7 linked regions of the Homo sapiens genome follow. The protein of the gene in region 1 purifies or fractionates together with the protein of each later gene. This does not show direct contact. Each region holds a gene or a part of one and is shown in the gene's direction. Other genes may lie near its edges.

The links.
Region 2: the proteins of HACL2 (region 1) and TBC1D9B purify together in Homo sapiens (co-immunoprecipitation; 2 studies listed by BioGRID and IntAct, with this or other methods). This does not show direct contact.
Region 3: the proteins of HACL2 (region 1) and PIGG purify together in Homo sapiens (co-immunoprecipitation; 2 studies listed by BioGRID and IntAct, with this or other methods). This does not show direct contact.
Region 4: the proteins of HACL2 (region 1) and XPO6 purify together in Homo sapiens (co-immunoprecipitation; 3 studies listed by BioGRID and IntAct, with this or other methods). This does not show direct contact.
Region 5: the proteins of HACL2 (region 1) and INTS1 purify together in Homo sapiens (co-immunoprecipitation; 3 studies listed by BioGRID and IntAct, with this or other methods). This does not show direct contact.
Region 6: the proteins of HACL2 (region 1) and TTC27 purify together in Homo sapiens (co-immunoprecipitation; 2 studies listed by BioGRID and IntAct, with this or other methods). This does not show direct contact.
Region 7: the proteins of HACL2 (region 1) and TNPO3 purify together in Homo sapiens (co-immunoprecipitation; 2 studies listed by BioGRID and IntAct, with this or other methods). This does not show direct contact.

The regions. Positions count from the first base shown.
Region 1 is NC_000019.10:15,115,261-15,119,521, reverse strand, and holds part of HACL2 (2-hydroxyacyl-CoA lyase 2), read left to right. Parts: intron 1-6; coding exon 7-104; intron 105-219; coding exon 220-356; intron 357-1,506; coding exon 1,507-1,641; intron 1,642-2,999; coding exon 3,000-3,114; intron 3,115-3,200; coding exon 3,201-3,370; intron 3,371-3,450; coding exon 3,451-3,521; intron 3,522-3,600; coding exon 3,601-3,672; intron 3,673-3,850; coding exon 3,851-3,956; intron 3,957-4,091; coding exon 4,092-4,261. UniProt on the Homo sapiens protein: Endoplasmic reticulum 2-OH acyl-CoA lyase involved in the cleavage (C1 removal) reaction in the fatty acid alpha-oxydation in a thiamine pyrophosphate (TPP)-dependent manner. Involved in the phytosphingosine degradation pathway.
Region 2 is NC_000005.10:179,873,170-179,877,430, reverse strand, and holds part of TBC1D9B (TBC1 domain family member 9B), read left to right. Parts: intron 1-1,393; coding exon 1,394-1,511; intron 1,512-2,243; coding exon 2,244-2,529; intron 2,530-4,182; coding exon 4,183-4,261. UniProt on the Homo sapiens protein: May act as a GTPase-activating protein for Rab family protein(s).
Region 3 is NC_000004.12:505,266-509,526, forward strand, and holds part of PIGG (GPI ethanolamine phosphate transferase 2, catalytic subunit), read left to right. Parts: intron 1-452; coding exon 453-662; intron 663-2,139; coding exon 2,140-2,328; intron 2,329-3,563; coding exon 3,564-3,705; intron 3,706-4,261.
Region 4 is NC_000016.10:28,097,476-28,100,888, reverse strand, and holds the end of XPO6 (exportin-6), read left to right. Parts: intron 1-2,249; coding exon 2,250-2,351; 3' UTR 2,352-2,913; downstream 2,914-3,413. UniProt on the Homo sapiens protein: Mediates the nuclear export of actin and profilin-actin complexes in somatic cells.
Region 5 is NC_000007.14:1,472,949-1,477,209, reverse strand, and holds part of INTS1 (integrator complex subunit 1), read left to right. Parts: intron 1-291; coding exon 292-416; intron 417-552; coding exon 553-640; intron 641-754; coding exon 755-981; intron 982-1,138; coding exon 1,139-1,262; intron 1,263-2,371; coding exon 2,372-2,505; intron 2,506-2,849; coding exon 2,850-3,042; intron 3,043-3,516; coding exon 3,517-3,644; intron 3,645-4,025; coding exon 4,026-4,138; intron 4,139-4,261. UniProt on the Homo sapiens protein: Component of the integrator complex, a multiprotein complex that terminates RNA polymerase II (Pol II) transcription in the promoter-proximal region of genes.
Region 6 is NC_000002.12:32,805,585-32,809,845, forward strand, and holds part of TTC27 (tetratricopeptide repeat protein 27), read left to right. Parts: intron 1-4,261.
Region 7 is NC_000007.14:128,957,612-128,961,872, reverse strand, and holds part of TNPO3 (transportin-3), read left to right. Parts: intron 1-4,261. UniProt on the Homo sapiens protein: Importin, which transports target proteins into the nucleus. Specifically mediates the nuclear import of splicing factor serine/arginine (SR) proteins, such as RBM4, SFRS1 and SFRS2, by recognizing phosphorylated SR domains.

The DNA.
Region 1 (4,261 bases):
CTCCAGGTTCAGCGCTGTGTGGAGATCCTGAGCCGGGCCAAGAGGCCTCTGATGGTGCTGGGGAGTCAGGCCCTGCTCACCCCAACGTCTGCCGACAAGCTTCGGTGAGAAGCGCCAGCCCTGCCCTTGTTTTCACGTTCCCAGTCCCCAGTCCTCGGGTGCTCTTGGGGAGGCGGGAGGCCCCGGCCACACTGACCTCTGCTCTGCCTGGACTCCCAGGGCTGCCGTGGAGACCTTGGGTGTTCCCTGCTTCCTTGGAGGGATGGCACGGGGGCTGTTAGGCCGCAACCACCCCCTCCACATCCGGGAGAACCGCAGTGCGGCCCTGAAGAAGGCGGATGTCATTGTCCTAGCAGGTGGGCCTGAGCCTCTTCCTTTCCCTCCTTCCCCCAGGAACCCCCTCACCCTGTTACCCAGCTTCACACGAAGGAGGAGGAAGGTCTAGTGGGCACCTATTGTACTTGATACACATTTTCACATAAAGCGCTTTGAACCCAACCAGACGCATAATAGGTGTATCAGATAGCTACTGCCCTGTAACAACCATCCCCAAACTCAATGGCTAAAAATGCATTTCTGATTTCTCAAGATCCACCTATAAGGTAGGTGGTAGCTGTGGTTTTGGCTGGGCTCATTCATGAGTCTGCACTTGGGTTAGGCAGGAAGGCAGCTGTGCTGATCCAGGCTGGGCTTGCTCACCTGTATGGGGATTGGCTGGCCCTGCAGCTCGTCTGGGATGGCCTCAGCTGGGGTCATAGAGTTCTTCACCCCTGTCTCCATGGCCCCCTTGTTTCTCATCCTCCAGTAGGCTAGCCTGGGCTGGCCGACTTGGTGAAGGATGAGAAAACTATGGGGCTAGGAGAGTGCGGTTATTCAAGAGAGTGAGTGGAGGCTGTGTGGCTTCTTGAAGTAGAGTCTGCAGGAATGGGGGGTGGGGGTCCTGAATCATCTGGAGGTGTCTTCACTCAGAGGTCTTGCAATTGACGCCAGCTGTTGGAGGGGCTGTGGACTAGGGCAACTACACAGGTCTCTATGTGTGGCTCCGGTTTCCTCCCAGCATGATGGCCTCAGGGTAGTCAGACTTCTTAGACAGAGAGCACATTCCTTGGCCCCACCCAGGCCTCTAAAAGTGAACAAGGAAGAAACTGCATATCTTCCTTGTTGGGTGTCATGGTGTGTCACTTTCAAGGAAAGGGGACCTAGGCTGCACCTCTCTCCATGGGAGGCATGTCAAGGTGACCTTGTACAAATGGATGTAGGGTGGGAGATATTATGGCCATCTGGGAAAATATAACCTGCCTCTGCCCTATCCTGTTGGCCAAAGCATGTCATGAGGCCAGTCCCGATTCAGGGGGTGTGGGGAGCTGCAAGGTCACTGTAGGTGGCACAGGTGCAGGGAGACTCGGTGAGGAACAGGGACTCATTTGCATCCAGTCCACCACAGTGGATCAAGTAAGGTAGACGACATGGGGCCTCTGCCTACTGCATTCCTGTCCCCCACACCAGGAACTGTGTGTGACTTCCGCCTATCCTATGGCCGTGTCCTCAGCCACAGCAGCAAGATCATCATCGTCAATCGTAATCGGGAAGAGATGTTGCTCAACTCAGACATCTTCTGGAAGCCCCAGGAGGCTGTGCAGGGTGAGCCCCTTAATCCCCCCGTACACATATGTGCTCCTCCCAGTCCCTCTCCTCCTGGTTTCTGCTGCAGCTGGCTTGAGCCTGGTACAGTGATTGAGGCCCAGACCTTGCCCTAGGGGTAGCCAGTCAACCAGAGACAAATAGTTGGCTCTCAAACTGATGAATGCTTCTTTCTTTAAATTTTTTTTATTTTTATTTTTTAGAGACGAGGTCTCGCTCTGTCACCCAGGCTGGAATGCAGTAGTGCAATCACAGCTCACTGCACCCTCAAACTCCCAGGCTCAAAAGCAATCCTCCCACCTCAGCCTCCTGAGTAGCTGGGACTACAAGTATGCACCACCATGCCAGGCTAATTTGTTAATTTTTTTTTGTGGAATCAGCATCTCACTGTGTTGCCCAGGTTGGCGTGGAACTCCTGGCCTCAAGTGATCCTCCTGCCTCGGCCTCTCAAAAGTGCTGGGATTACAGACCAGAGCTACTGCGCCCGGCCTGATAGATGCTTCTGTAGGAACAAATGGTGGGGTGGACACAGAGGGAGGCTTGAAAACGTGCATGTGATCACGTTCCCTCCCACACTGCCCACTGCCCTCAGGACAGAGAGCACACTCGTTGGCCCCTTAGCCTGTCTTCCTGCCGTATCTCTCCCCTCCCCTTATTTTAGTCCCCTTGGACTTGAACTTGGTTCATCATTCTGAGGATGTTGACTCCCCTGCAGCCTAGGCGACAGGACACTCTTGTATTAAGCAGAGAAGTAGCACCGTTGCATCTGTGTTGGGAAGGTCCACTCAGCAGCCATGGACGGCAGGCCGGAAGGGGGCTGGGTGGAGGCCAGGGGGGCTGCTCAAAATGGCCAGGACAGAAGCGAGGAGGCCTGAACTGGAGATGAACAGCGGCAGAGCCTCACCTTCTCAGAGCCTCCATTTGATCATTTGAAAAATGGGGTGGTGAAAGATACATCACGGGGCTGTTTGTTAGTTCACTTCAGTAACGTTCGCTGTGCGCTTCCACGTGCCTGGATTTGAGAGATGTGCTTGGTGGATGTAGCTCTTTTCATTGAGTGTTTCCCAGGCAGAAGGAGGTGGAGGGAGGGGACGAGGCCAGCTTGGGTTTGTCACCTGCCTTGTGCTCCTTAACCCTTGTTTCTTGGGCCTTGTCTTCCCTTTTCACCTGGGCTGCCCTCCCCTGGTTCTGGCAGGTTCTGGGGTGTTTCACCTGTTTTTTTTCTAGGAGCACCCCTGGCCTGCTTCCCGTCTGCCTGCTCGGATGCTGCTGCTGGCTTCCTGCTGTTTTGAGGCCTCTGATGCTGGAAGAACAGGAGGAAGCCAGCTCCCCACAGCTGTGTCCTCTTCCTTCCCCAGGAGATGTGGGTTCCTTCGTGCTGAAGTTAGTGGAGGGCCTTCAGGGCCAGACCTGGGCCCCAGACTGGGTGGAGGAGCTGCGGGAAGCCGACCGGCAGAAGGAGCAGACCTTTCGGTGGGGCCTGGGTGGAGTGGATGTGGGAAGGGGGTTCCCGGCAGACCCTGCTGCCAACCCTGGTGACCTTCGCTGTCCTGTCGCAGGGAGAAGGCAGCGATGCCTGTGGCCCAGCACCTGAACCCAGTGCAGGTGCTGCAGCTGGTGGAGGAAACGCTACCTGACAACTCAATTCTGGTGGTGGATGGCGGGGACTTCGTGGGCACTGCTGCCCATCTGGTACAGCCCCGCGGCCCCCTGCGCTGGCTCGATCCTGGTAAGGAAGGGCCCCCGCCTGGGGCAGTGGGCACCATCCATCAGGACGCCTTCACACCCACCTGCTCTTGGTCCTCTTAGGGGCCTTTGGGACTCTGGGAGTTGGTGCAGGATTTGCACTTGGGGCCAAGCTGTGCCGGCCAGATGCTGAGGTGAGGCACTGGAGTTGGGAGACTTGCTGCTCTCTAGGTCCTGATCCACCCTAACCATCCTGGGTCCCCTCCCGACTAGGTCTGGTGCCTGTTTGGGGACGGAGCTTTTGGCTACAGCCTCATCGAATTTGATACATTCGTCAGACACAAGGTGACTGGGCTGGCCTGAGGGAAGCTTAGGGCCTGGGGTTCTGGGAGATGTCACCAGGGGTGGGCTGAGGTGGGGAGGGAGCCTCCTCTCTGGCAGAGGCCCTATCCCTGTCTCTGTCCTCTGGCTGGCCAAGCCATGGGGCTGAAGGCTGCGGCCTGCCTTCATCATCTTCCTGTAGATCCCAGTGATGGCCTTGGTAGGGAATGATGCTGGCTGGACACAGATTTCTCGGGAGCAGGTGCCCTCTCTGGGCAGCAACGTGGCCTGTGGCCTGGCCTACACTGGTGAGGGGGCCTCAGCGAGGTTGGGAGGACAGGAGGCTGTTTCAGTCCCAGCTGGGCTTGTGTTCCTCTCCTGGGCTGGCTGCATGTGCGGTGGGCTGAGTCCTTGCCACTATCCGACTTAATCTCTTCTTTTAGATTATCACAAGGCAGCCATGGGTCTGGGGGCCCGGGGCTTGCTGCTCTCACGGGAGAACGAGGATCAGGTGGTCAAGGTGCTGCACGATGCCCAGCAGCAGTGCCGAGACGGCCACCCGGTTGTGGTCAACATCCTCATTGGGAGGACGGACTTCCGCGATGGCTCCATT
Region 2 (4,261 bases), on another chromosome or scaffold:
TTGGCCTCTTAAAGTGCTGGGATTACAGGCGTGAGCCACTGTGCCTGGCCAGTATTTCTATTTTTAATTTATTTTAAATTATTATTATTATTTTTAGAGACAGGGTCTTGCTATGTTGTCCAGGCTGGTCTCAAGCTCCTTGGACCAGGGGATCTTCCGGTCTCAGCCTCCCAGGGCATGTACCACCACACCCAGCTAATATTTTTTTTTTAGACATGGGGTCTCACTGTCTTGCCCAGACTGGCCTCAAACTCCTAGGCTCAAGTGATCTTTCCGCCTCAGCCTCTCAAAGTGCTGGGATTATAGGCGTGAGCCACCAGCCACCATTCCTGGGCTTTTTTTTTTTTTTTTTTTTTTTTTGAGACAGGATCTCCTTCTGTTGCCCACACTGGATCTCAGTGGCATGATCATGGCTCACTGCAGCCTCCACCTACTGGGCTCAATCGATCCTCCCACTTCAGCCTCCTGGGTAGCTGGAACTACAGGTACACACCACCACGCCCAGTTACTTTTTGTATTTTTTATAGAGATGGGGTCTCACTGTGTGGCCCAGGCTGGTCTTGAACTCCTGGGCTCAAGTGATCCGACCTCCTCAGCCTCCTAAAGTGCTAGGATTACAAAGTGTGAGCTACTGTGGCCTGGCCTATTTTTAATTTTTTGAGGAACTCCATACTTCCTCCCCAGCAGCTGCACCATTTTATATTCCCACCAGCAGTTCACAAGGGTTCCGATTTCTCCACATCCTCATCAACACTTGCTATATTCTGTTGTTGTTAGAGTGATGGGCATGAGGGTATCTAATTGTACTTTAGGTTAGCATTTCTCGCAGCTTTTGATTTTAAATCTAGGCATTTTCCTGGCCAAGTCATATGGCTTTCTGTTTGCCTTAAAGGTCTTGTTAGCAGCTAGGGCTGTGTGTGGTCCTAGTTGTGCACCGAGTGGGTGGCCTTGGTGTGGGGCTCTGGCCTTGTGGCTCACCTCCACATCAGCTTGGTCATAATCCCACCTCCAACACCCAACACCACTCCGCAGAAGTGTGATGTGTTGATGTTCACCTTCTCTGGTTTCCCAGTGCCTTCTGACCCAGTTTGAAGGAGTTGGCAGACTCTCTGTTCCATCAGTTTCCTACAAATTGCCTTTTGACATTTCCCAGAGTTGGGTAGGGGCAGTTTCTCATTACCGGATGCCCAGCCCTCCTGAAGAGGCAGATTTGCTTGTAGGAGGAGGCCATTAATCTTCACCACGAGAACCTGAAAAATAATAAAAATAACAACAACAAAAAGAAGATCATGTGGGCCCTTGCAGGGAGGGGTGGCTGGGAGGGGTGGGGAGAGACAGTTTTATTTGCTGGCCAGCAGTGCAAGCCTTCCCCGGCTGTCTCTGTGCCCGGCAGGCAATGAACATCGTGACCTCGGTGCTCCTGCTCTATGGCAGTGAGGAGGAGGCCTTCTGGCTCCTGGTGGCCCTGTGCGAGCGCATGCTGCCCGACTACTACAACACCAGGGTGGTGGGTGAGTGTCCCCGGGTGCTGCCTCGCCTGGGTCTCCAGGTGCCTGCTGGTTCCATGAGGGTGGCAGCCCTTCCCAGGCCAAGCTCCAGGCTTCACGTGGGTTCCCTAGGAGTTAGAGGGTAGTATTACACATTCGGTGGTTTATAAAAGTCCCCTCAGAGCCTAAATTCCTATCCATCTAACTTCCTGTCAACTTTTTGATTATGGAAAATTTCAAACATCAAAACTAGAGAGTATATATCCCCCATGTAACCTGATGCTCAACTTTACTGAACTCATATCCAGTGAAATCTGTTATGAAGTGGAAATGGACTTGCAAGAGTGTTTAATTAGGTTCATATTTAAGCATGTTATCCTGTCCTTCCCCTGCTGTCTGGTGTTTGGAGTTACCGCTCTTGGGGTCCTTCAGAGCTGCGTCTATTCACAATCATCAGGATGGGACAGAGTCATTGAGGGTGCTGTTTACCTCTCATGCCTTACGGAGAAATCAGTATTTCCCCAAAATAAAATTCAAGTGTAGTAGAAGAAATAGTTATTTCGCCCAGTGGTTTGGGAGCTGTAGAGAGACTTGAAGGGTTTTTTCGTCCTTGTTTTCTCCCAGCACTCCAAGTCTCCCTCAGCCCTCACTGCACAGCTGGCAGGGCTGGAGTGGCCAGGGCTCGTACGCTGCAGGTGAGGGCCCACCCAGGCCACAGGGTGGGCTCACCATCAGCCTCGCTCATCCTGCCCGCAGGAGCCCTGGTGGACCAAGGCATCTTCGAAGAGCTCACGAGAGACTTCCTGCCGCAGCTCTCGGAGAAGATGCAGGACCTGGGGGTGATCTCCAGCATCTCGCTGTCCTGGTTCCTGACCCTCTTCCTCAGCGTCATGCCCTTCGAGAGCGCCGTGGTCATCGTCGACTGCTTTTTCTATGAGGGCATCAAGGTGATCCTGCAGGTGGCCCTGGCCGTCCTGGACGCCAACATGGAGCAGCTGCTGGGCTGCAGCGACGAGGGCGAGGCCATGACCATGCTGGGCAGGTGACATGCCGGGTTCCTTCTCCTGCTGGGGGCTCACAGCAGAACCCCTCACCAGCCCCGGGCACTGTCCAGTCAGCCTGAAGTGACTGTGCCCACCAAGTGCCAGGCTGCAGCTGGACCCGGGGGTGCTCTGGGGTCAGGAGGCGGCTCCTTTCTAGTGGGAGATGAAGCAGCGCTCAGTGATAGGTGCCAGGAGGAGTAAAGCAGGCACTGCGGGCAGAGCATGCTGGCTGGAGGGCCACCGCTCAGATGTAGGGTTGGAGATGCTTCCCCTGAGGGCAAACCAGAGCCAAGATCCAGTGACCACAATTCCAGTTGGTGGCACAGCTGGGCATTTCATGTCCACCAGGTGGTCCCGGTCATACCTCTCCAAGCTCAGCTGCATTGCAGCCCCCATGCCCTGGAGGGAGCAGGCCTGCCCTGGGCCCGCTGGAACAGCTGGATGAGCTGATGTCCCACTAGTCACGCCAAATGTCCAGGGTCATCCCAGCCCCTCCACCCCCTCCTTAGTCCCCACATCCCATCTCTTGCAGATTCTGTCTGGGATCCAGCCCCTTCCCTTCAGCCTGCTGCCTCAGCCCAGGCCCACCATGCCCTTTCCCTGGGGTTCCCCTCTCAGTCTTTGACCTGCCTGCATCCCATGACTCTGATCAGACCTGGCCCTGCCCCTTCCCTGGGTCCTCTGTACAAAGGCACTGTCTGAGCCTCCAGCCTGGCCTTCAAGCCCCGGCCCCTCCTGGCTACACTCTGCCCTGCCCTGAGCTCTGTGCAGTCCCACCCTCCTACATAGCGTATTTGTCCGGACTGGAATGCCCCCAGCCCCCAGGAACAGCCTGGGACTCTGCCACTTGCCCATGGCCAGGCCAGGTGCTGCCTGGGACTCTCTAGATCCAGCAGGGTTGTCACCTCCCTACTGTGGGCCTAAGTAGCTTTTGGTCCACACTGATGTTAAGATACTCAGCCTGTGGCCGGAGTCTGTGGCTGGTTTTCCTGCCGCTTCCTACAATAGGCGGATAGGGCCTCCTCCAGAGCAGGGGTCTGACTGGGGATATGACCAGGGCTATGGGCATGGGGAGTCAGCTACCTCCTCCCACCTGAGTGTCAGGCTCAGCCCAGGGACCCAGAGAGGCCATGAACTCTGGCGGGGCTAGGTCAGCTGACAGAGGTAGGGCTCCATCCCCAGGACTGTGTCCCTAGAGAAGCTGATTCCCTGGGCTGCAGCAGGCCTCCCCACACCTGACTTTCTCCTGCGACTCAACCTTTGATCCCTGAATCTTCTTGGCCAGGGCGAGAAGGTCCCACATCCCCAGGGCCCCGCCAAAGGGAGGAAGCTCGTCATCCTTCCAACTGGGTAGGATCTGGGGTTATAAGGCGTTCCTGCCCAAGGGACCCCCCCACTGACTAAGAAAACAGCCCAGCGTCCTCAGGGTTAGTGCTCAGGCCTTGTCGGGGGCACTGCCCTGTAGAGGGCTCCCCAACTTGCTGGGGGCGCTGCCAGGGCACACCTCTGCCCTCCTGCAGGGTGCCCAGTCCTCTGCACACTCCTTATTAGGAGTCTGCATAAAGATTGGGTCCCTCCGCATCACCCAGCTGTGGGAAGGAGGCTCCCTCTGCCTGGGCGTGGTCTGGACTGTTGTCCTCTGTCCTTTGCAGATACCTGGATAATGTGGTCAACAAGCAGAGTGTCTCTCCTCCTATCCCGCACCTCCGTGCCTTGCTGAGCAGCAGCGAT
Region 3 (4,261 bases), on another chromosome or scaffold:
GTTATCTTTGTTACTATTGAGTTTACAGTTTTTCACCAGAATCTATGTGCCTCTTTCTCTTCTTTACCCTAATTACTGTCCTAACATTGACCCAGCCACCAGTACTAGGGATGCCCTAGCTTTATGCTCACCTATTTTATCCATAAAAAATCTTCAGACCAGCCTGGGCAACATAGCGGGACCCTGTATCTACCAAAAAAAAAAAAAAAAAAAAAAAAAAAGCTGGGTGTGGTGCCACACACCTGTAGTTCCAGCTACTTGGGAGGCCAAGGTGGGAGGATCGCTTGGGCCCAGGAGTTCAAAGCTGCAGTGATCCCTGATTGCATGACTGCACTCCATCCTGAGCAACAGAGAGGGACCCTGTCTCAAAAAAAAAAAAAAAAATCTTCAGTGCCCTTTTCATGCTCCGGTTTTGGATTCAGTGGCCTAATTCTTGCATTTTCTGACTGCAGGCATTGATGACGGGGAGCCTTCCTGGCTTTGTCGACGTCATCAGGAACCTCAATTCTCCTGCACTGCTGGAAGACAGTGTGATAAGACAAGCAAAAGCAGCTGGAAAAAGAATAGTCTTTTATGGAGATGAAACCTGGGTTAAATTATTCCCAAAGCATTTTGTGGAATATGATGGAACAACCTCATTTTTCGTGTCAGATTACACAGAGGTCAGTTTTTAAAATAAGAAAATATATCATACTAGAATATCATACTAGATAGAGCCTGGCATCCCATTACTTAGTGAGAGATGATACCATTTTATATTTGGTTTTATTAATTTATAGGGAGTACTATGGACAGGTGTAAAAATTATTCACTCACATAATCAGTTAACAACCCAGAAATACAAACCTGAAGCAGGTGTGAGCAGAGTTTTATGGAACCCAAAGCTTAGAACAGCTGAGTGCCATTGAGGGGCAGAGAGGATCAGGAAGGGTGACACAGCCAAGGGACTGTCTGAGCCGAGATATGATGGGTGAGTGGGGACTCCCCAGGTGGGCAGAACAGGCTGGTAGCTTCTGCACATGGCAGAGCTGTAGGACTCCACAGCCTGTTGGTTCTGCTGCAAGCGGAGCCTCATCGTGCCCTGAGGGCAGGTGGCCGACTGGGTGGGGCCTGGTCCTGAGGGGGTTTTCCTGGAGCTTTTCCAACAAAAATTAGACCTGCATGTTAGAAAGCAGACCTGGGGCTGAGGTAGGAGCACACCAGCACACCTGCCTGGCCTGGGGTTTAGCCAGCTTCACCTCCTAGATGGCTGGGCCTTATGGAGCATCTGTAGTCCTATCCTGTTCCAAAGTGGGGCGCTTTTCAACAGTTACTTTTCAGTAATGACTGAGTTTTCCTGACTATATATGGCATCACTGAGAAACACTTCTCTTCATAGGAGATTTTTTTAGTGGGAGGGAGATGAGCTAGCTGAGGGGTCAGGGCTCACCAGGCTGACAGCTCTATTGGGGGCTGATCAACTGCTCATCTCTCCTCCGTGATGTGTTTATTTCAGAAATCAATGTGATCATTGAGTGCTGTGTCTTTTTCAGAACAGCCTTCTTGTAGGACACATGTAGATGCCCTCAGCTTCATCATCCTGCTGGTTACTTTAACGCTGGGTACTGTCCTGTCTTTAATTAACTGCCCTTTGCCCTTAGTTACCTCATGACAACTTGGGATCTATTTAACTTGCCCATTTGCTCACCTTCAGTTATGCCCATTAAGCCCAGCAGTGATCCCACAGAAAAATATTTTTGTCAGAAGAACCCTTGCTCATTTAAATTATCTGTAGAATATATTCGATCCATAGCCCAGAAACATAAAAACAATATTAGCAAAAGTTTAATCCAATGCTAATGTTCATTTATTTATTATAGACGTGGGGTCTTGCTATGTTGCCCAGGTGGGTCCTGAACTCTTGGCCTCAAGCAGTCTTCCCGCTTCAGCCTCCTCAAGTGTTGAGATGAAAGGCATGAGCTGCTGTGTCCAGCCTATTTATTTATTTTTAATGACATAGATTTTGTTGTGTTTCAACTCCCCCAAATCCTGTAACCTGAATAAACCCCTAGATTTTAAGATGACTGTTGCGTTTTCCCCGGGGAGTGAAGATCCAGGGAAATTAGGTGAGTTGTTTATACGTGTGTTTCCCCTTCAAAGGTGGATAATAATGTCACGAGGCATTTGGATAAAGTATTAAAAAGAGGAGATTGGGACATATTAATCCTCCACTACCTGGGGCTGGACCACATTGGCCACATTTCAGGGCCCAACAGCCCCCTGATTGGGCAGAAGCTGAGCGAGATGGACAGCGTGCTGATGAAGATCCACACCTCACTGCAGTCGAAGGTGAGGCTCGCCGTCGCTCACTGTCTGCTGATGTGGTTTCACGTGGATGTTCCCTAGAATAAATGCAACCGCCTGAGTTATTCAGGGTGCCTGTGTGAATGTCCACCATCAGTCTGCTAGCCAGGGGCCGCATGCCACACGGGCAGCACTGTCTCAGTGTCCACTGCACTGACTCCGTCTTCCAGCAGCCCTGCAGAACAGCAGCTCTCACTCCTACCCGTGTATGCATTCATTCAACTAATACCTCCTGAAGACCTTTTGTGCCACTCTCTCTGTTCTGTATCACTCTCTCTGTTCTGTGCCACTCTGTTCTGTGTCACTTTCTGTTCTGTGTCACTCTCTGTTCTGTGTCACTCTCTCTTCTGTGTCACTCTCTGTTCTGTGTCACTCTCTCTGCTCTGTGCCACTGTCTCTGTTCTGTGTCACTCTGTCTGTTCTGTGTCTCTGTTTCTGTTCTATGTCACTTTTTGTCCATGCATTTGGGTGCATCAGTGAAACAGTCGATAATCCCTCGTGAAGCTCACGCTCTAGCCAGGAGAGATGAGAAAGATGAGTAAATAAGTATGTGAGGAGGTGATGGGTGCTGCAGAAACTCAGAGGGCAGGAGGAGGGGCTTTCAACAGCGTGTTGAGAGAAGCCTTCCCTGAAGACGTGTGCAGGGTGAGCAGAGACTTGAAGGGAGGGAGGGGCAGACCATGTGGTCTGTGCACGAGTGTTCCAGGAGGACCAGCAGCGAGGGTCAGGCACAGCCTGCCTGGCTTGTCCCGGAGCAGCAAAGGATGTGTGGCTGCAACCCCAGGGGCAGAGAAGCCTGGTGGGTGCCCCCACATGGCTCAGAGCTCTTGCCTTTTGCTGTGTGTTGTGTTCTCACCAGAGTCCTGTGAAAGATTCCATTTGACAGATGAGGCGACCAAGGCACAGAGTAGAATGCGTCCAGAGTCTCACAGCTTGGCAGTGGCAAAGACAGAAACCAGATACAAACCGTCTGCCATCAGAGGGCAGAAATGCAGCCTGCTGTGCTCCATGAGCTGTGTACAATTCTGTGAACTTCATTTATGGCATTATTTGACTGTGACCCTGTGATCTGGCTATGAGCTCATAGGAAAAAAAAATCTAATTCATTGAGAAAGAGCTACAACTCTATAAAGTAAAGCTAAAACCGAAAATTGTCTTCTTAAGATGATGTGCTCTCTTCAGTCTGAACGCAGTTGAAATGTTTTTCCTTTGCCTTAAAGGAGAGAGAGACGCCTTTACCCAATTTGCTGGTTCTTTGTGGTGACCATGGCATGTCTGAAACAGGAAGTCACGGGGCCTCCTCCACCGAGGAGGTGAATACACCTCTGATTTTAATCAGTTCTGCGTTTGAAAGGAAACCCGGTGAGAATTTAGGAATGTTAACAGTTGGAAATTGTATTACATTTGTTTTCTATAGTCTGGTTTTAATTTTGAAAACCTATTTTTTAGAAGCTCCATAAGGTTGAAGTCCCCAAGCAATGTGAGCATGAAAAGTAATTGGGCAAAAGGCTTTTGGGATCTGAAGTTACGTTCCTTCCCGAATCCTTAAAATACAGTTATTCTTTGTCAGAATTTTGTTGTATGAATGTTGCTGCCTGGATATCTGGAACTGTTGAGAAAAATTGCCAGTAGCTCAGAGACATCTGGACAGCATGTGTGAACTGAAGGAAACGTGAATACCTCGGCTTTTTTAAAAGTTTGCATTATTGTAAACCATCTATTGAATAGCAGTGTCAACAAGAGTCATGGGACCCGGCCAGAGCAGGACAGACAGAGGCCCCGTCTGTCAGTATTCAGACACGCCCCAAACACACACACACCCCACTCTGACCTGTGCCCAGACTCAGCCGCCAGCCTATGCACTCTGCCCTCGCGGCCGCCGGCCTTGCTGTCCTGTCGGCGGCTGCCTTCCACTTGC
Region 4 (3,413 bases), on another chromosome or scaffold:
GTGGGCTGTCCCCACCCGTGCAGCACCTCGGTGGGAGCTGGGTGCTGCTGGCTCTTGGTGTCCATGAGGCCATCTTGTTGGAGCCTGACAGTGCCTGGGACCTCCTTCCCCATGGGGCTCACCTGTTCTCTTCTTCCTGTGTCAGGTGACCAGGCCTCTCTCTTGCCTGATAGGAACTTCTGGGAACTTTTCCTTGTACCGTTTTATACTTGATGAAATTAGGAAAAGAAATCGCTTTCTCCCTGGTCCTCTTGGGGTTCTTGACCTGAGTCCTCTGTGAAGCAGCTTGTCCACGGCTCCACCGTAGTGCTCAGATGCACACACTGCTCTCACTGGTGCAAACCTGGCCGCCTGCTTTCCTCATTTGCCACGTGTGGCAGGGAAGCTTTTGCTTAGACTCATCCTGTTCTCCTTTGTCTTGGGGTCTTCCTTTTCTTGGGACTTGTTCTCTCCTAAGCCTCTTCCAGTTCACTTCAGCCCCTGGATATGTTTTTTCCTTTTTCTAGAGGCCAGATCCTAATACTTAATGATCAGCTTCTAACGACATCAATATCAGTCAACTTTTTGATTTAAAGCTGTGGTTTCAAAATCTAGTTATAGGCCAGGCGCGGTGTCTCACACCTGTAATCTCAGCACTTTGGGAGGCCAAGGCGGGCGGATCACTTGAGGTTAGGGGGTTTGAGACCAGCCTGGCCAACATGGCGAAACCCTGTCTCTACTAAAAATAAAAAAAATTAGTCAGGTGTGGTGGCACACGCCTGTAATCCCAGCTGCTTGGGAGGCTGAGGCACAAGAATCTCTTGAACCCGGGAGGCAGAGGTTGCAGTGAGCGGAGGTTGTGCCACTGCACTCCAGCCTGGGCGGCAGAGTGGGACTTTGTCTCAAAAAAAAAAATCTAGTTATATCAGAAGCACCTGGGGTACTTATTAAAAATGGAGAAACAGACTTCTGTGTTCTACCCAGGAAATTCTGGTTTGGCATTTGGGAGCCACTGATTTAAAAGACATCCCTTAGTTGGTTTTTTGAGGGTAAAATAAAAGAATCACCACCTTCCATTCAGTCACGCACTGTGTGTTTGAAGCCAGCTGCTTCTCAAGCCCCGGGCCAGGAACTGGGGCACCAGTCCCAGCCTTCACCAAGTCTTTCATGGTAGACAGGCCAATACAGCACCCTCTGTGGACCACATAGTGCCAAGCATGTGACATGTCTTGGCTCGAGTAAGCCTTCTAACAAGCCTCTGAAGTGTGGGTCCTGTTACTCCCCCATTTCACAGATGGTGGGGGCTCAGAAGGTGAGCAGTTCACAGAACTTGGAAGTGGTAGAGCTGCGAAGCAGGAGGCAGACCTGGGTGTTCTGGCCCCAGAGCCTGCACACACTCCCCAGAAGCAGATTGCTCAGGACAGAGGCGCTGAGCTGGCTGCTGGGGCCAGGAAATAGGAGGCATCTGTGCAGACTTTGGGAAGAGGCAGGCTTTGAATGGAGTTCTGGAAGAGGAATAGTGGTTGGGCAGGAAAATGAACTTGGTCCTGCTCATGGCTCTGCTGGGGCTTGCTGGGCCTGTTTGAGTCCTCACCGGGACCTACACTGAAAAAAAAAGCAGGGTCTCACCGTGTGCATGATGGCGGAGGTCAGGGCCTCACTTCTGGCCCAGGGCCTTCCATGGCCCACGCTGCGCCCAGTGGGACAGGCCTTGGGACTGTGTTTGCTGCTGCTCGGGTGGCTCTCGAGGGGCAGGGGCGGCCTGGAGCCCCGTGGGTAAAGGTTCTGCAGACATTGCTCGGTGTGCGCGTCACCTCAAGGGGCCATGGTGAAGAAGAGGGCTGTCACCACAGCCATGTCTGCGTTTGAGGGGCCGGACTCAGGAGCAAGTGTGCTGGTCTCTTCAGTGTGAGCTGGGGCCAGCTTCTTCATGGTGCAGCGCTTTGGTCTTTCTGTCCTTAGACTAGTGGTTCTGGTAGGGCTTGGTGGCAGCCTTGTGGTGAGGACTCAGTGAGTTGATGTCTGTATGTTGATTGCAGCAGTGTCTGGCACCCGAGAGGCCCTAGGGACGTATTCCTCTTGTTCTTTTTCTCCCACAGCGCCTGGCACAGAGTCTCTGTGACACGCAGTGCAACAGTGAATAGAAGTTTTGAGTTTTAGAAAGTGCTCCCCTATCTTCAGTGCACACTCTGGGATGGAAGTAGCTGTTGGGGTCTGGTGGGTGGGTGACCTGGTGTGTTGTTGGCTGCAGCTATGCCCCTGCCTTCCAGGACCTGCCCTCATTCACCCAGAATGTGCACAGGCTGGTCAACGACCTGCGCTACTACAGACTCTGCAACGACAGCCTGCCCCCTGGCACTGTGAAGCTCTAGGCCTGCTACTGCCTGGGGACACGGACTTCTGCTGCTGCCACCTGCGCCAGCCCTACCTTCCACCACAGATGTCTCCCAGATGGGCCTTGGTCACACTCCTTGGCTTCTCCCACCGCAAGCAACGCTGCCTGCCTCTGCCGCTCCTCCACATCTTGCCGCTGCCCAGCAGAGCTGGCTTCTGGGTCCACCTGAGCACTGGACGGTGCTCCCAGGGCGTTGGAGCAGGCGGAGGGGTGTGTGGCCAGGTACTAGGAGGCACCAGGAAATCCCGCGGGGTGGCCCATGCAGACCAGGCGCACGTGGCTCATGGGGCAGAATTGCCAAGGACAGCTCACGACAGTGCCACCTTCTCACCATTCCAGCCAAGGAGAGATGTGACGTTGGAACTGCTCTGGCACTTCTGTCAAGCCTCCCCCGCCCCAATTGCCTTGAGATCTCTGCTCTTTGTCAGAGATTTGCAAAGACTCACGTTTTTGTTGTTTTCTCATCATTCCATTGTGATACTAAGAAACTAAGAAGCTTAATGAAAAGAAATAAAATGCCTATGTTGTTGTTCTAGAAACCCTGGCTGGGGAGCTGCTTGCTACTCACAGCCTCCTTGAGGCCGGGTTCCCAGCAAGGTGCATCCTGATGGGAATGTGGGCAGTGCGGCTTGGAGTGGGCTGGCTCCTGGCGTCTCCCACCTTCTAATGGCATCTCCCTGACTGCTCTTACTCAGCGAGGGGAGGGGGTCTCACTGACAGTTGGCCAGATGATGGAGGGAGGCTGCAGTCTGGGAGGGGGTCTCACTGATGGTTGGCCTGGTACTGGTGGAGGCTGGAGGCTGGGAGGGGGTGTTGCTGATGGTTGGCCTGGTGGTGGAGGGAGGCTGGAGTCCAGGCTGCCTGACTCCTGTGGCCCCTGTGGCACCCACTCCCCCTGCCCCCCAGGGTGGGAAGTGTGGGCTCCACCTCCCCCACCTGCTAGGGAATAGATTCCTTCCCACGATGTGCAGCAGGACCTGGCCCTCCGTGGCCTGAAGTCTCGCTGGAGGACAGGGAGGTGGGGTCTCATGATGGATTG
Region 5 (4,261 bases), on another chromosome or scaffold:
GAGGGCAGGTGCTGGGCTCCCCACATCCTCCAGGGAGGGACGGCCTCACCAGAGAGGCTGCATGGAGCCCCGGGCACCTCCGCTGTGTGGCATGGCTCCCGTGGGAAGGGGCGGGGAGATGCAGCGCAGCCACCAGGAGCGGCCCTCCAGCACCATGACGGGGCCGGTGTTACCGGCAGCACCCCAAGCCTCGGCTCTCTGAGTGGCTCATTGGGGAAGCTGTCAGCTGACTTCAGCAGAGCCTGCCATTGGCCCAGGTGAGGCCATCCGGGCTTCTTCCTCCCTCCCCAGGGCAAAGGTCAGGCCCAGGTGCCCTCGTTCCGTCCCTACCTCCTGACCCTCTTCACGCATCAGTCCAGCTGGCCCACACTGCACCAGTGCATCCGAGTCCTGCTGGGCAAGAGCCGGGAACAGAGGTGGGCGCCTCCCTGTCCCCAACCTGGGCTGCGCGCATACTGGCCTTCACCAGAAATCTCCCAGCGCCGGCTCTGACTGGTATCTCCCATGCTGAGACGAGACACCTCGTGCTCTGGAACCTTTGCCTCCCCACAGGTTCGACCCCTCTGCCTCTCTGGACTTCCTCTGGGCCTGCATCCATGTTCCTCGCATCTGGCAGGGGCGGGACCAGCGCACCCCGCAGGCAGGTCTTGGGAGGGTGGCCCATCCGGGAGAGGGGGTGGCCCATCCGGGAGAGGGGGTGGCCCATCCGGGAGAGGCGGTGGTGCTCCGGGGCTGATGCAGGCACCCGTTACAGAAGCGGCGGGAGGAGCTGGTGCTGCGGGTCCAGGGCCCGGAGCTCATCAGCCTGGTGGAGCTGATCCTGGCCGAGGCGGAGACGCGGAGCCAGGACGGGGACACAGCCGCCTGCAGCCTCATCCAGGCCCGGCTGCCCCTGCTGCTCAGCTGCTGCTGTGGGGACGATGAGAGTGTCAGGAAGGTGACGGAGCACCTGTCAGGCTGCATCCAGCAGTGGGGAGACAGGTGCTCAGGCCCCCCGGCCCCAGATGCTGCCTGGGAGTGAGCCATGGAGGGGGTCGAGGCCCAGCCCTGGGTGGGTTCCCATCACGCCTGGTCCCGTCCACCCACCCCTGTCACTGGGGCCCCGTCCGCCTGGTGAGCCCTGCTCCACCTCTTCCAGCGTGCTGGGCAGGCGCTGCCGAGACCTTCTCCTGCAGCTCTACCTACAGCGGCCGGAGCTGCGGGTGCCCGTGCCTGAGGTCCTACTGCACAGCGAAGGGGCTGCCAGCAGCAGCGTCTGCAAGGTGAGGGCGCAACTCTGCCGCTCCCCGCCGCCGTCCCAGGTGCCCTGGCCGGGCAGGGAGGGAGGGCGGAGGCCACAGTGTACATGGCCATCGCCGGCTACCCCTCTTGCCCCTTCCCAGTCCGCGCCGCCCTGTGGCCCTGTGGGTTTGTCTGCGTTGAGTTTTATACCGAGGGAGCTTGCGGGTGCTCTGCTCGCACAGTCTGGAGAGTCGTGGTGTTGTGGGCACTGGGTGGCCTGCCATTGTGTGGATCGGCCGTTGGTTTATCTGTTCACCTGCTGGTGGACGTGGGGTCACGTTCAGTTTGGGGCAGTGACAGCTGCTGGGGACTCGTGCCCGGGTCTTGGCGGACGGCTGCGTCTGCTCCTCTCCAGTGACCCTGGTGGGGAGAGCTGGGCCTCCCGTACCCGCTTCCCCACCGCAGGCCGGAACCTGCAGCCTGTCTTCTGCTGGTACCACAGAGGGCAGCTGACTTTCTCTAATCATTTCTGCTTGTGGTTTTTTTCACTTATATGTCATTTTATTTGTTGAAATCACACTTGATGTGCAGTTTTGTGGAGGGTTTTTGAGGCAGGGTGTCTGTTGCCAAGGCTGGAGTGCAGCGGTACCATCATAGCTCACTGCAGCCTCAACCCCCTGTGCTCAAGTGAGCCTCCCACCTCAGCCTCCCGAGTAGCTGGGATCACAGGCACGTGCCACCACACCCAGTTACTCTTTTTGTATTTTTGAAAATAGAGAGGGCTATTTTCATTGCCCAGGCTAGTCTTGAACTCCTGGGCTCTGGTGATCTTCTGCCGCGGCCTCACAGAGTGCTGGGATGGCAGGCGTGAGCCACTGCGCCTGCTTGGCCGATGTGTAGTTTTGGCTTGTTTCCCGCTCATTGTATCATTTGGTGTGGAGCTTTGCTTTTATTCTGTATGGGGTTTTCCCAGAGGCTGGCTGTGGCCTGCCTGCCCTCCCGAGGTGCTCATGGAAGCCGTAAGGAGCCAGTTCCTCTGCTCATGGCGTGCCACGCGGTGGATCACGGCCACAGCTGGCGGCCAGGCTGAGTGTGGGTGGGCAAGTGAGGGGAGCCAGCGGCCCCGGCCTCAGAGCGCCCCTCCCTGCAGCTGGACGGACTCATCCACCGCTTCATCACGCTCCTTGCGGACACCAGCGACTCCCGGGCGTTGGAGAACCGAGGGGCGGATGCCAGCATGGCCTGCCGGAAGCTGGCGGTGGCGCACCCGCTGCTGCTGCTCAGGTGCTGTCCCAGAAGCCCTGCCCTCGCCAGACACTGGTTTAACCAGGGGGGTCTGCGGCTCTCCAGCCTGGGCAACAAGAGCAAAACTCCAAAAACAACAAAAAAAAGCATGTTCCCATGGGCTGAGCTTGACCGGGGGAAGTCAGGACTGAGCTGGGCCTCAGGTGGGAGGAGCTGGGTGGGCCTCAGAGAGGGGCGATCTCATCCCCACCTCCTTAGGGCAGGAGGGTGGTTGGGGGGCAGCACGGGGTCTGGCTCCCGGGGCAGGCAGTGGGGCCTTCCTGGGGACGTGCGCCAGGTGAGCCCGCCGGCCGGGGCTGACTGGGCCCTCACCGCGCCCGCAGGCACCTGCCCATGATCGCGGCGCTCCTGCACGGCCGCACCCACCTCAACTTCCAGGAGTTCCGGCAGCAGAACCACCTGAGCTGCTTCCTGCACGTGCTGGGCCTGCTGGAGCTGCTGCAGCCGCACGTGTTCCGCAGCGAGCACCAGGGGGCGCTGTGGGACTGCCTTCTGTCCTTCATCCGCCTGCTGCTGGTGTGTGCTCCCGCCGCCCGCCCTCGCGCTCCCTTCCACTCCCTCTGCTCTGGCCCAGGCCTGCCTCACCCACTCGCGGAGGGACTGGGAGGACCTCTGCAGCCAGGGCCCAGGCCAGGCCACCTGCCCTGGGGACCAGCTCCCACCCTGGGAAGCCCCTGCCTGCTGCCCCTCACGTGCCTGGGGGGCCCACGTCCTTCAGAAGCCCAGCCCAGACCCTCCGTGCTGTTCTCTGCGTGTCGCTTGTGCTACCTCGAGCCCCTCATCCATCTGGGCACATGCCCCAGACAGCCATGTCCACACCCTGACAGGCCATGCCGGCCACCCTTGGGCCTGTGACGCCCCAGTGGTTGGCAGAGGGGGCTCGTTGGCTGTGGGGTCCATGCCCTGAGGCTCTGGGAGCAGATGGGAGCACAGGCTCTGTTTTGGCCCTGCGGGGCAGAGCAGCTCGAGGGTGCCGCTTTTGCTTTGCAGAATTACAGGAAGTCCTCCCGCCATCTGGCTGCCTTCATCAACAAGTTTGTGCAGTTCATCCATAAGTACATTACCTACAATGCCCCAGCAGCCATCTCCTTCCTGCAGAAGCACGCCGACCCGCTCCAGTGAGTGCCCACGGGCTGCAGGGAAGCCTCGGGCCTCCGGCGAGGGTCCAGCGGGGTCTGGAGGGTGTTCCTGGGAAGGCCGTGTCGTGTCAGATATGCTGCTCCTGAGGCCGGGGAGGGCTGCTGAGCGTGGTGCTCATCCCAGGGCGCAGAGGCCGCCCCACCCTGTGCCGAAGCCGTCTGAACCCACCCCTGCAGCTCTCTGGCTCTCTGTCCCGTTCCACGCACATGTGGCTTCCCCGCCCGGCCCTCCCTCTGAGCGTCCTGGCCTCTCCTGCATGCCTGTGTCCACACGCTCCCATGCCACCCTAGTTTGACCCCTGACCCAGCCTTCCTCCTGCCAGCGTCTTCCTCCCAGGTGAAAGCATCTTCTCTCCCCAGCGACCTGTCCTTCGACAACAGTGACCTGGTGATGCTGAAATCCCTCCTTGCAGGGCTCAGCCTGCCCAGCAGGGACGACAGGACCGACCGAGGCCTGGACGAAGAGGGCGAGGGTGAGTGGGGCTGCCAGGGGCTGCTGGAAGCAGCTGCGGAACAGTCCTACAGGGCCTGGTTTTCCCAGCGCACAGCCAGCCCTGGGCCGTCCGAGGCGTCCCGATGGGGGCTGTGTGAGCCTG
Region 6 (4,261 bases), on another chromosome or scaffold:
GGTATCAAGAGCTGACACCATGGTGGTGAATTCTGTTTGAGTTCTGTTTTGAACCATGAGGAAACATGGAAGTAAGCTAACAGGCAGGGCAGTACAGTGAGTGAGCCAGCAATGTGGTGTTACTGTCCACTTCCAACAGAGTAAGGTAGTTGAGGATCAATGATAATTGTAATAGTTTATATGTTTATATTGCTTCACACTTTTCAAACCTCTTACCTGTATATTGGCCCCTTTGATGGAACAGTTCTGTAATGTAGTGGACAGAAAGCCTGTGCTCATTACTGCTATTTACCAGGCTCCTAGTCCCTTCCCCATGTTCATGACCTACTTCAGCAACTATGTATCCTCCTCTCCATTCTAGATCTAGCTGATCTTGATACTTGGTGTTTAGGTAGATAATATCTCCAGTACTTTGGACATAACAGAGGCCTTAGTCTTTATTTCAGTGACAACCCATCCCTGTGGCTATATCTTGGGTCCTGTTTCCCCAAGAGTCATTCCACCTCTAAAATCTTAAACTTCAATTTTCTACTCTTGAGCCACTTATTACATATGTAGTAATTTATAGTTTTGACTTGTTGCTGATAGGTTAATTACTTATAACAATTTACATGTAACAGTGGGTAAAAACATTCACCTATTTAAATTTTTTTTCACTTTTGATGAGGCAAAGGGGTATAGTGCTGGTAAATTTGTAGACTACCCAAGAGGAAATTGTACTCATGGGTGATTCATTTAATCAAAGAAATACTATCGTAACACTCTTTACTCCTTTTAATCTCAAATATCTATTTTCTAAAGAAAGGTTATATATATGTTACATTAAAAGTTACTGCTTTTGCAGTCAGTCTGGATAACCAGAATTTGAATTTTCTGACTTAGTGGGAATAAAAATGATAATATTAGCCAGTAAGTTATACAATTACTGTAATGGTTTTTAAAAATAATTGCTATCAGAGGCTGAGGCGGGCAGATCACGAGGTCAGGAGATCGAGACCATCCTGGCTAACACGGTGAAACCCCATCTCTACTAAAAATACAGAAAAAATTAGCCGGGCATGGTGGCACGCGCCTGTAGTCCCAGCTACTCGGGAGGCTGAGGCAGGAGAATCGCTTGAACCAAGAGGCAGAGGTTGCAGTGAGCCAAGATCGCGCCACTGCACTCCAGCTTGACCGACAGCGAGACTTTGTCTCAAAGAAAAAAAAAAAGTTGATATCACTCTAGAACCACTTTTTAAGATTGAATATTAGCTTCATTTATTAATGTACTTAAATAACACTACATATTTTTACTTCACTTTATGAGGTTTTCTTAAGTACAGGGAATAATTTTAAATTAATTTTTATTGAAATGTAGTGTACATACAGAAAAGTATGCAAATCATAAGTAAACATAAGAATTTTTTCTTCGTGAAAACACCTGTGTAACCAGGTGAGTCAGAGCATTACCAGCACTCCCCATATTCCCCAAACCCTCCCTTCCTTCTTTTAGTCACCACTACCCCCAAATACCCTCAAGGTAATCACCACTATGGGACATTAAAGGCAAGTCTAATAAATGAATATTCATGTGTGTCATCATTTTTTTCTTCTTCTTTGCCAATCTTTAGATGTATTTATGTCTGCTTTTTCTCTGTTTTTAAATGTATATTAAAATAACAGATATATAGTTTTACAAGCCAAATAATAGTAAAAGGCTCATTACAAAGTATACCAATTTCCTTCTTTACCCCTCCTTACTCTTCAAAATCCTTCTCCCAAAAAAGGAGAAACCCTTTAGCGTCTCTTCTGCTACTTGCACATTTCCATATTTCATATTAATAGTTACTATATTGCTGTTATTTTTTAATTAAACAAAATGAGGCATTATTTGTTGACTTCTTCTTATCTTTTTATAATAAATGAGAACTGTCATACCGGCACTTCCACTACTTCTCTTTCTCATCATCCTAATATATCTATTTTAACAATTTTGGTTAAACAAATACACTAAATGCCTATGCAAAGGATATTGAAAATTAGTATTATAGGATACTATGATTATGGGGGGTTTCTCTTCATTTTTTGTGATGTTAATAATCGTCTTGGTTTTTATGTTTTTTCTTTCTTTTTAAGCCTCTTGTCTGAAATCATGATCTCTCCTGCCTTCCTTGTTCTGGCTTTGGTTCTGGATTATGGTCACTCACCCTTAATGATTGCCAAATCCAGGTGAATCTTCCATTCCTGATCCTTTGTAGATCGACTTTCCTTGTAACTTTCTCCTTCCTTGGTTTCCATGACATCACTTTCTTACCTTTCTGGCCACTCCTTTTCAGTTCGATGAGTGAGTTCTCTACTTGCCCTCTTTTTTTTTTTTTTTTTTTTTGGAGACAGAGTTTCGCTCTTGTTATCCAGGATGGCATGCAGTGGCGCAATCTCAGCTCACTGCAACCTCCCCTCCTGGGTTCAAGTGATTCTCCTGCCTCAGCCTCCCAAATAGCTGGGATTACAGGTACCCACCACCACACCCTGCTAATTTTTTTGTATTTTTAGTAGAGACAGGGTTTCACCATGTTGGCCAGGCTGGTCTTGAATTCCCGACCTCATGTGATCCGCCTACCTCTGCCTCCCAGAGTGCTGGGATTACAGGCGTGAGCCACTACGCCCAACCTACTTGCCCTCTTCTTAAATGTTGTGTTCTTTAAGATTCTATCCTCAGCCTTATTCTTGCCCAACACAGTCTCTTTAGGCAATATCTGCCATGACCCTCAATGACTCTCGTTATCTATTCCTCCAATGTGGAACTCTTTTCTAAGCTCCAGGCCCAGCTATTTCACTGGCCATTGAACATGCAGATGGGGAGCGTGAAACAAATTGGTTATTGCCTCCCTCCTCTCTCTTCTGGTGGTATCTGCATATGAACTGGGCAGAGGCATTCAGTATCTGCCCTACCTACAGTTCTATCCCCTGTCTACCCCCCACAACAGACAGAAGCTTCACCTCCTTGCCCTTCTGCAGTTCCCTTCATGCCCCTGCAAACACACACACATACACAGAGGAGGCACAAATGCACTTTACCAACTTTTTCCCTCCTTAATGCCAGGACTACAGCTCTTCATTTTTATTGGCAAGAACACCAAAAGCTGTCTCTCCCCACATCGTCTCCCCAGTAGGCTAAAGTGAAGGGATAGGATGTTGAGCCAACTGTGGGATTCCAGAAGAAGCAAAGCATCACTCATTAGTGTGTTTCATTTGTACATGTTAGTAACTATTTTAATAGACCATCTTTTTCAAAACATGTTAATACCTGACATGCTTATAGAATGATCACTTGAAACAAGCAGTACACATTCAGACTGTTTCTTCTGCATTGTTACTTTCAGATTTAAAACACCAGTGGGATTGTAATATGAATTTCATTACTTTAAGAGTCAAAGGTACACATGTGGGATTGTAATGTGAATTTACAGACAGAGATGATGTACCTTGTCAAAACAAGAAAAAAGCACAACTGAATTTTCTGTCTTCTTTTATGACTGTATATAATTAAGACCATGAATCTGAGTTCACATTCCTAAAAGTATCCATGTTCCAGAGGAGCCCCTACTCCTCAGCCACATCTCATGCACGGATCAGAATGTTCTAGGAGGAGACAGCAAGATCTCACACTGGTTGCATTTCTCTCAGCTACGCTTTCTGAAAGAGTTGTATTCATTCAGTCTTTCAGGCACAATTATTTATTGAGTCAGTGCAATTGCAATATGCCAGGCACTATATTAAACACTGGTGATACAGAATGATAAAATGCCATCCTCTCCCTGCAGTTCACGGTAAAATTAAAGATGTGGGCAGCTGTCTCTTGGAGCCTTGCTTCTCGAAGTGTGCCCTGCAGACCGTCAACATCAGCATCACCTGGGAGCTTGTTGGAAATGCAGAATCTTGGTCCAAGATGGATCAGCATTTTTATCCAGGATTCTGCATTTCTAACAAGCTCTGATGCCAGTGCTGTCGGTCCATGGACTGCACTGACTAGCATGGTGTTACAGTACTTTCCTCAAGCTGGTTCTTTTGCTGTCCCACCATCAAAGGAGTGGAAGATTGCGGTTGTGTTTTCTGTGCCTTCAGATACACAGCCTAATGTAGATATGACAGATGTGCCTTTTTATAATATAACCTGGTGCAGACTGCAGTTTAATCCATCTGTCAGCATTCAAAGCATCTGGGATAGAATGTGTAAAGGCTGACTGATGATAATAAGATAGCCAAGAAGTTAGGCCGGGCG
Region 7 (4,261 bases), on another chromosome or scaffold:
TGTTGAACATGGGAAGCATTGATACTGGAATTAGAGGCCAGTAAGGGGTTGAATCCCTAGTCAAGTCATCAGAGTTTCATTATTTTCTGTTACCTACCAGGTCATCGGATCAAAAGGATCTCATTTCTCAGCACTCCTCTAGTAATCTTATGGGGCTCGAGAAATAGTGACCATAAAAGCTTTCAGAAATATGGTGGAAGGATAGGAATTTGGGGACTAGAAGCCAGAAAACAGAATCTAAAAAATACTGGCAGTTAAAAAAGTAAATAAATAGAAAGCTAAGAAATATCAAACGTCAGAAGGACCGAGACAGAAAATACAGTCATGTGTTACTTAATGATGGGGATATGTTCCAAGAAATGTGTCATTAGGTGGTTTAGTTGTTGTGCAAACGTCATGGAGTATACTTCTACAAACCTAGATGGTATAGCCTACCGGACACCTGGTCTATATAGTGTAGCCTATTGCTCCTAGGCTACAAACCTGTATAGCAGGTTACTGTACTGAATACTGTAGGCAATTGTAACACAATGGTAAGAATTTGTATATCCAAACATATCTAAACATAGAAAAGGTACAGTAAAAATACAGTATAAAAGAGAAAAAAAAAGGTATACCTGTATGAGGGCACTTACCATGAATGGAACTTGCAGAACTGGAAGTTGTTCTAGGTGAGTCAGTGAGTGAGTGGTGAGTGAATAGGCGGCCTAGGACATTACCGTATACTACTGTAGACTTTTTATAGATACTGTATACTTAGGCTACACTAAATTTATAAAAAAATTTTTTTCATCAATAATAAATTAACCCTTGGCCAGGCGCGGTGGCTCATGCCTGTAATCCCAGCACTTTGGGAGGCCGAGGCAGGCAGATCACTTGAGGTCAGGAGTTTGAGACCAGCCTGGCCAACATGGTGAAACCCCATCTCTACTAAAAATTTAAAAAATTAGCCAGGCGTGGTGGTGGGCACTTGTAATCCCAGCTACTCAGGAGGCTGAGGCTGGAGAATCGCTTGAACCTGGGAGACAGAGGTTGCAGTGGGCCGAGATTGTGCCACCGCACTCCAGCCTGGGCGACAGAGTGAGACTCTGTCTCAAAATAATAATAATAATAATAATAATAAATTAACTCTTGCTTACTGTAACTTTTTTACTTTATAAACTAAATTTTTTTTAACTCTTGGACTCCTTTGTAATAACACCTAGCTTAAAACACAAATTGTACAGCTCATTAAAAAATTTTTTCTTTATATCTTTATAAGCTTTTTTCTATTCTTAAAATTACTTTATTTTTTTTTTTTAGCTTTTAAACTTTTTTGTTAAAAGCTAAGACACAAACACATATTAGCCTAGACCTACACAGGGTCAAGATCATCAATATCACTGTCTTCCACCTTTTTACATCTTGTCCCACTTAGAAGGTCTTCAAGGGCAGTAACACACATGGAGTTGCCATCTCCTAGGATAACAATGTCTTCTTCTGGAATCCCTCCCGAAGGACCTGCCTGAGGCTGTTTTACAGTAAATTTTTTTTTTTTGTAAGTAGAAGGAATATACTCTAAATTAATGATAAAAAGTGTAGTATAGTAAATACATAACCCAGTAATATAGTTGCTTATGATCAATTATTGTATACTGTAGATAATTGTTTGTGTTGTCCTTTTATATGACTGGCAGTGCAGTAGGTTTGTTTATACCAGCATCACCACAAGCATGTGAGTAACGCAACATGCAGTTGTTCATCTCTATTATACTCATAGGATCACTGTCATACATGCAGTCCATCATTGACCAAAACATCATTGTAGCACATAACTATAGTTCTAACATTCATGGAGCTTTTTCGTTTTTTTGAGACGGAGTCTTGCTCTGTCGCCCAGGCTGAAGTGCGGTGGTGTGATCTCAGCTCACTGCAACCTCCACCCCCTGGGTTCAAGCGATCCTCCAGCCTCAGCCTCCCGAGTAGCTGGGATCACAGGTGCCCACCACCACACACGGCTAATTTTTGTCTTTTTAGTGGAGATGGATTTCACCATGTTGGCCAGGCTGGTCTCAAACTCCTGACCTCAGGTGATCTACCCGCCTTGGCCTCCCAAAGTGCTGCGATTACAGGTGTGAGCCACCGCGCCCGGCCTCAAGGAGCTTTTTGATCCATTTCTATGGGCTCCCCACCAAGGACACTTCAGTTAAACATTTGGCTGAAGTGTTTGACACCAAAGCACTTGCAGATAGGATTGGGGCAGAAGCCAAGTTGACAGTGTCACCTGTCCCTCATTTCACCCTATCGCACTAAAGTTCTCCCACACTTGCATTTCAGTTTCAATACTTTTTCTCATGTGCCACAAAGGAGGCTGTGAAGTTATCATTTCCAAAGTCTCTGCTGGGCACAGTGACTCACGCCTGTAATCACAGCACTTTGGAGGCTGAGGCAGGACGATAGCTTGAGCCCAGAGGTTCGAGCAGCCTGGGCAACACAATGAGACCCTGTTTCTATCTGTTCTGAAAACAAAACAAAACAGAAGTCTCTTGAGGAAGGGTAAAATTTAAAACATGTAAGACATTAGGATAGCAAAAAAATCTCGGTCTCCAGCACTGTCCTAACTTTCAGGGTTTTCTGTTATCCTAGTCCCTTGTGATAACACACCACATAGCAACTTCTCTTGGGTTACAGATCTTCCTCCTTCCTGACATTGGGAGCATGAGTGATATGGGCTCACATACCCTGGCTGCCTCCTTAACAGTCAGTATTAATTTGGAAGTAAAATGAGAAATGTAACACTTAAATTGAAGCTTATTAAATCCACAGAGGTAATGGCAATTCCAATAAAGCCAAAAGACCTTTCTCATTTTCTTTCTTTTTTCTTTTTTTTGAGACAGGGTCTCACTCTGTTGCCCAGCCTGGAGTGCAGTGGCACAATCATGGCTCACTGCAACCTCAACCTCCCCAGCTCAGGTTATCCTCCTGCCTTAGCCTCGTGAGTAGCTGGGACCACAGGTGTGCACCACCACACCCAGCTAAGTTTTAAATTATTTGTAGAGACGGGGTCTCCCTGTGTTGGGATTACAAGCATGAGCCACTGTGCCTGGCCACCTGCCTTATTTTCATTACATTTTTAGGATGGAGAGACTAGAAGAAAGTTTCTAGAATGTTCTGTTGAATCAAGTCATGGAGTCTAAGTCAAGGTTCTTAATGATGTTTCAGAACTTACAATGGATGGGGAAATCTGGATGTAGGAACCTAAATGGATAGCTCTATTTTCACCTTTTCTGTTGGATCGCTTAGAGCAGTTTCCTCCCCTGGTGTTTAACCATTATGAGATGGAAAGTGTGTTTTCATCTGCATTGAATCCTTGGCTGTAGGCACTGGTATCTGAGTTAGTTGAGCCAGGGAGAGGGCTACAGGAAGGCAAGCATATTAAGAATTGCTTCCTGGCTGGGCGCGGTGGCTCATGCCTGTAATCCCAGCACTTTGTGAGGCCGAGGCGGGCGGATCACAAGGTCAGGAGTTCGAGACCAGCCTGGCCAACATGGTGAAACCACATCTCTACTAAAAATACAAAAAAATAGTCGGGCGTGGTGGTGGGCACCTGTGATCCCAGCTACTGGGGAGGCTGAGGCAGGAGAATCGCTTGAACCTGGGAGGCGGAAGTTGCAGTGAGCTGAGATCGTGCCATTGCACTCCAGCCTGGATGACATGAGCAAGACTCCATATCAAAAAAAAAAAAAAAAAAAAAAAGGAAGTGCTTCCTTCTCCACTGCTTTAGCTTTTAGCTTAGCCTTATGTTCATTTAGCAAAAACTGTTATGAAGACAGATACAGTAGAATGAAGCTGGCATCAGCTGGTTTCTTGGTGACAGTTTTGGACAAAGGGAGGTCGGGGGGCTTTTGAAAAAACAGGGTCAGTTGAATATTGGGCTATTCATATCACATAGGCATCTCCTGCTTTGTCTCTCTTTCTACATGCTTTAACCCTTTCCTCTCTCCCTCCTCCTCCCACAGGAGGAAATCCTGAGCAGCCTGTTCAACTAGAAAATCAATGACTGGTGGAGACTTAGTTGCTAGACCGGCCTTTGTAAACAAAATCTATCTTTGGAAGAGAATGAGGAAACTTATGAGAGCCGTAGCAACCAAGTGTTGTTGTAGCAGCCTACATTTATTGAATACTATTTTGTTCACTGCTCTATTTTCATAAGCACTCTGTATGTGGACGATTTTAATCCTCTAAACAGTGTTATGAAGTAGATAATATTAATAGATGAGGA